Linked DNA regions of Homo sapiens: region 2 is linked to region 1. The links come from fine-mapping of genetic effects on gene expression. A gene starts in region 1. The other region holds a variant in brackets. All regions are shown on one strand. Distances are between the middles of the regions.

Region 1 (2,918 bases):
AATCCGGGATTTAAACCTAGGTGTGAAGGCAAAGCCCATGTTCCTTCTGCAAGCGCTCCTCTAAATGTATGTCTTCACAGAGCTATTAACCCCTCTTTTTTTGTTTAACACGGTTATGTAAAAAGAAAAAAAAACTGAGCTGGCAGTTACAGAAAAGTTATAGCTTTCAAGAGCCTGACAGTCTAGTTAGGAAGCAAAATATCTAGAAATCCAACAAGTGCAAAGCAGTGTCTAGATAAGGAGGGAAACTCACAGGCAGTAATAGCAGAGGAGGGTGAGCTCGGCCTGGTGCTGGGCTGATGAGCACTTTGACTTGGCAGGAGGTCTGTTGTCTGTGGAACAAGATAAGTAAATTGCTTGTACAACCCTTCTCTCCAATCATTGAATCTGAATCCCTGTTACCATTTAATGCCTGAAAATAGTAGATTCTTTTACCTTTTAGCATAGAGGAGATGGTGGAAGGTGACAGAAGAAAGGCACATTTTGAAGGGAGTGTGGAGAGTTTGTGGGCTAAGAGATGAAGAGGTAGGAAGCTGGCATGGCGGCTCATACGTGTAATCCCAGTGCTTTGGGAGGCAGAGCCCAGCTGATAGCTTGAGGCCAGGAGTTGGAGACCAGTCTGGACAACATAGTGAGATCCCATCTCTTAAAAAAAAAAAAAATAGCGGAGCGTGCTGGCGCACGACCAAAGCCCTAGCTACTCTGGAGGCTAAGGTGGGAGGACTACTTGAGTCCAGGAGTTCGACGTTACAATGAGCTATCAGCATGCCACTGCACTTTAGCCTGAGTGACAGAGCCAGAGACTGTCTCTGAAAAGAAGAAGAAAAGATAGAGAAAGGCACTTGGAGGAATTGAGATTGTTTTCCGTAGGAAAGAGAAAAGGTATGGGGGTGGGAGACGATGAGGTGAGGAGCTAACTTCAAGAAATCTCATCCAGAAGTTAGTGGAGTGCCCTTAACACTTAATTGGGAAATGTCTTCAGTTTCCTGCACTTGAAGGATTGTTGTCTCTTCCTGGAAGAGAGGATTTAGATTTATTCTCCTGGGGAACAAACGATGGAATCAAAGGCTAAAAGCCTGGCGGGAATACATTTCTACTCAATACAAAGAATTTAAAAGGAGCTACACGCACTGCCTCAGGCGGTGGTGAGCCTGTTTCAAACAGAGGCAGGCTGCTTCCTGAGGAACCAGCCCCTCGGGGCTTGACGCCCTGATCCCGGGTCGCTGGCCGGGGGCGGAGACGGGGATAGCGAGCTGAGTGTGCGAGCGCCAGGGGTTCCAGCTGCACGTCCCAGGCTCTCCAGCGCGCGGCAGGCCGGGGCGGGACGAGGAGAGCTGCGGGGACAACGCCTGTGGCTGGGTCCGGAGGTGCGGGTGCGGCGCGGGACAAGCGGGCAGCATGCTCAGGGCGGTCGGGAGCCTACTGCGCCTTGGCCGCGGGCTAACAGTCCGCTGCGGCCCCGGGGCGCCTCTCGAGGCCACGCGACGGCCCGCACCGGCTCTTCCGCCCCGGGGTCTCCCCTGCTACTCCAGCGGCGGGGCCCCCAGCAATTCTGGGCCCCAAGGTCACGGTGAGCCAGGGCTCCGACGGGGAGGTCCTGGGAGGGAGGAGGTTGCGGGAGGGCAGCGAGGGGCCGGCCCGGGAGTCGGCTTGAGGGCGCGCTGATCCTCTGTGCCGGTGCGTCAGTTCCCGCGTCCATCTGGGTTGCTTTCGCTGCAGGGGAGATTCACCGAGTCCCCACGCAGCGCAGGCCTTCGCAGTTCGACAAGAAAATCCTGCTGTGGACAGGGCGTTTCAAATCGATGGAGGAGATCCCGCCTCGGATCCCGTAAGTGTGGCGACCGCCGCGCGAAGGAGAGTCGGTCCCCGGCCGCAAGGGTGCGGGGTGACCCACCTTCCGACCGCGGCCACCTAGGAGCGAAAGCGGCCGCAGTGCCAACACTTCGCAATATCACCCACCACACACGGAGTTTACCCACACACACACCCCGCCTCCAGTGCGGTGTGTCAAGAGTCAATTAAGCTTACAGGGAGATTGCAGAAGGTGGGTGAAAACTGAGAGGTTCAGGGGACACTTCCAGCACCGCCCAGATTGCCGGTCCCCAGCAAGCTCCGAACTGGGAGGCAGTGGGGCTCTTGTGCCAAACAGGCCACGGTCCTCGCGAGCATCCGGATGGCTGCCGGGACGCCAGACCGCAATCCAGGCTTTGGCCGGGGGCGTCCCCCTACCCCACCCAAGGAAGGGGTTCTCTGATCTTGGCTTGCGGGGCGGCTGTGGCGGGGGGGTCTCTGGAAAAAAGACGCATCCATGCGGCCTCCTCTTCTGGGGCAGGAGACGCCTGGCGGACGTGTTTCTGCAGCCCTCTAGGCTCCGGGTTTACTCAGGGTGGGACGCGCGGGAGTGTCAGCACTGTGGGCCTCTTCAGCATGCTAAACCCACCAAGACAGATGATAAAACTCAAACTAATAACTCCCCCTCTAAGGTAATGTAACCTGTAAAATAAATGCTAATAATAAGTAAATGTAACCTGTAAAAAAATCTTTCCAAAGTTTCTGTTTCTGCCAAGCCCAAAAACCTTCGCAGCATTTTTACAAGGGATTGGGTAAAAAAGAGAGGGACGGAAACTAAAAATAAAATCAATCTACTACTTTTTAAGTTTATCTTTTAAAAATAAAAGACTAAAACCATAACGTGAAAGAAGGATTTTAGATATTCTGTATATTTGTACAATGTAATGAATGCCTATTAGAATGGATAATGGAAACTGGGCCTATATTTCTGTTTTTCACATGGTGCCTGCCATGTTATTGTTTATAAACAATTGCAGTTTATCAGTTACCAAAGCATCTCAGATAGCTAGGGGGTGGGGTGGGAGAACATGGCAGGAAATGTACACTCAGTAATGAATTCTGAAGCA
Region 2 (2,918 bases), 110 kb after region 1:
CACATGAGTATTGTTGCTTAGAATGTGCTTTGGAAGACCTAATGTAGGATTTTTTTCTCACTGGTGACTCACAATACTTGCAAAATAGGAAAGAAAATTGGCTTTTCTTAAGACTTTTATGCCTTATGTAATTTAAAACATGATCAATACAAAAAGTTTCCAATATTTAAGGAGGTTATGTAATTTTGCAAGTTAGTTGTTTAGATCTCAGAAAATTTTTCTGTAGAAAAGTTTCCGTGAAAACTTTTCCATAGACAATTTTTCCATAGTTTTATACATACTATTTGAGATTTCTGTCCAGTGTACAAAACATAGTTCATTTACTGTGTAACATGACTGACTAAATGAATTATGGATTAAGTAGGCCTTTATGGACTAGACTGGGAACCAAATAACAAGGACTGACAAGTTTCCTTGAAAAAATCAGCAATGCATTCAGAACTCTTCTGCATCTCCCAATACCTGAGGTAGAAAGACAGGATCCTCTGCTTTCCCTACTACAGGAAAAGCAAGTCTCTTGCCCTGGAGATTGATTATAAAGAAGTGGTTGCTTATTAAGTCAATAATTTTTTTTTGTGTGTGTGTGTGTGTGTGTTATTAGTTTTTGTAAAAATCTTTAAGTTAACTTGTATAAAGTCTATAAACCAGAATGTTTCAACATGTTTCCAAATAAAATTTTAATAAGTTTCCATCCTCATAGAGTTACAGGGATGTAAAAATTAAGTCATTTATTTTTATGTTCAATAGAGACAATATGGTTTAGATAATTCTGGAGGATACAAACAACAACAACTACGAAATATGGAGATAGAAGTAAATAGGGGAAGAATGCCTCCATCTGAATTTCATAGGAGAAAAGCTGATATGATGGAATCATTAGCTCTTGGTTTTGACGATGGAAAAACAAAAACTTCCGGTGAGTATTTAAACATCAGAGTCATTGTTTTAATATTGCTTATACCACTGAAGTAATAATCAGAATCATTTTAATTTTGCTTAATTTTCATAATCTGTGCACAAATATTTTTTTAAAAATGTATTGTTTTAAAACTTCTGAATTATTTTTATGATAAATAATTCACTTAAAAATTTACTTTTATATTATGTTACTTGACATTTAAAAAGCTATGCTCTAGAGAGTGCTAAGAGAAATATAATGTGAGCCACATATATAATTTTAAATTTCCTGGCTCCACATTAACAAAAGTGAAAAGGAGGCTGGGCGCGGTGGCTCATGCCTGTAATCCCAGCACTTTGGGAGGCTGAGACAGGCGGATCACCTGAGGTCGGGAGTTCGAGACTAGCCTAACCAACATGGAGAAATCCCATCTCTACTAAAAAAAAATTACAAAATTAGCTGGGCGTGGTGGCACATGCCTGTAATCCCAGCTACTAGGGAGGCTGAGGCAGGAGAATCGCTTGAACCCGGGAGGCGGAGGTTGC[G/A]GTGAGCCGAGATTGCGCCATTGCACTCCAGCCTGGGCAACAAGAGCGAAACTCCATCTCAAAAAAAACAAAAAAAAAACAAAAAAAAGTGAAAAGGAACAGGGGAAGTTAATTTAAATAGTTTAAACCAGTGTATCCATGATATTATTATTTCAACATGTAATCAACATTAAAACTATTACTGAGACATTTTACATTGTTTATACATTCTTCAAAATCCATTGTGTATTTTCTACTTCACAGCACAACTCAATTGGGCAGCCACATTTCAAATTCTCGATAGCCACAAATGGCTATTGGCTATTTTATTGTTTGTACATTTTTAGACACTAACAACTCTATATACATTGTATCATTTAACTCAAAACATCCTCTCCTGTACTGTTATATATTCCAAATGAGGTCACTGTTGCTTAGAGAAGTTACAGTGACTTTGCCAAAGCAAGGTTACACAGCTGGTTATTCCTAATCAAATCTTCCTTGCCCCATAATATGGCTTTTTTCTGATGAGTATTAAAATTTTTTTCTTTGTATATATTAGTATATTAACAGACTTTTTATGGAAACAACTTTGTTACTGTCACCCAGATTTTTTGAATCTTAATGTTTTGCCATATTTACTTAAAAGTTTTTAAAGCTTCAACACCTTTGATAGGTATTCAAAGCCCTTTATGTACACTTTTTCTAATTCTAATTTGCCCTCCCCACAAGGGAACTATTATCCCAAGTTTGATATTTATCAGTCTCATACATGCTTTAGTACTCTTACCATGTATGTACATTTCCATAAAATATTTTGCAGGTGTTTATATATAAATGGGATACAACATGTATGCTATAAATTGTTTTGCTCAAATATATTGGTTCTTACAGTTCTACTTCATTCATTTTAGCTGCTGTGTAGTATTTCCTTGTATGAATTGTAGCTAACTTATCTTGTTTTCATATTGATAAACATTTAGATTGTTTCCAGTTTTCTACTCTTATAATTTATGAACATGTCTACTTCAGGAGTTTCTCTAGTATTACATCCAGAACTGGATGTAGCTAATTATAGCTAACTTATCTTGTTTTCATATTGATAAACATTTAGATTGCTTCCAGTTTTCTACTCTTATAATTTATGAACATGTCTACTTCAGGCGTTTCTCTAGTATTACATCCAGAACTGGAATGCTAAGTTAAAGGGCGTGCAAATCTTCAACGTTGTTAAGGTTATTATAGAATTGTTTTCCAAAGTGCTTGTAATCTACATTCACACCAGTGTATTTCACACATAGTATGGTGACACTTTTAAATTTTTGCTATTTAACAGGTTATGAGATGATACATGTTTTAATTTGCATTTTCTGGATTACTCCTGAGTTAGTTTCCTCTTGAACGAATTACCTGTTCTCTTCCTTTCTCTATTCTCTATTGAGTTGTTTGTTCTTACTGATTTATAGGAGACTGTTAAGTATTCAGAACACTATTCT

The links.
Region 2: its variant is fine-mapped to the expression of FAM162B in subcutaneous fat (GTEx, PIP 0.94).

The regions. Positions count from the first base shown.
Region 1 is chr6:116,764,057-116,766,974 of GRCh38, reverse strand. FAM162B (family with sequence similarity 162 member B) reads left to right here and starts at 1,256. Exons shown (of 4, transcript NM_001085480.3): 1 at 1,256-1,570; 2 at 1,720-1,828. The coding sequence starts at 1,399. It overlaps LOC105377963 (a long non-coding RNA gene), which reads right to left and starts at 607. Exons shown (of 3, transcript XR_942910.3): 1 at 436-607; 2 at 254-332. RefSeq lists an enhancer at 1,721-2,235.
Region 2 is chr6:116,654,682-116,657,599 of GRCh38, reverse strand. ZUP1 (zinc finger containing ubiquitin peptidase 1) reads left to right here. Exons shown (of 10, transcript NM_145062.3): 5 at 748-916. Among named protein-coding and RNA genes, the nearest start is that of ZUP1, 13 kb to the left of the region's middle. The variant G/A (reference allele first, on the strand shown) is at 1,444.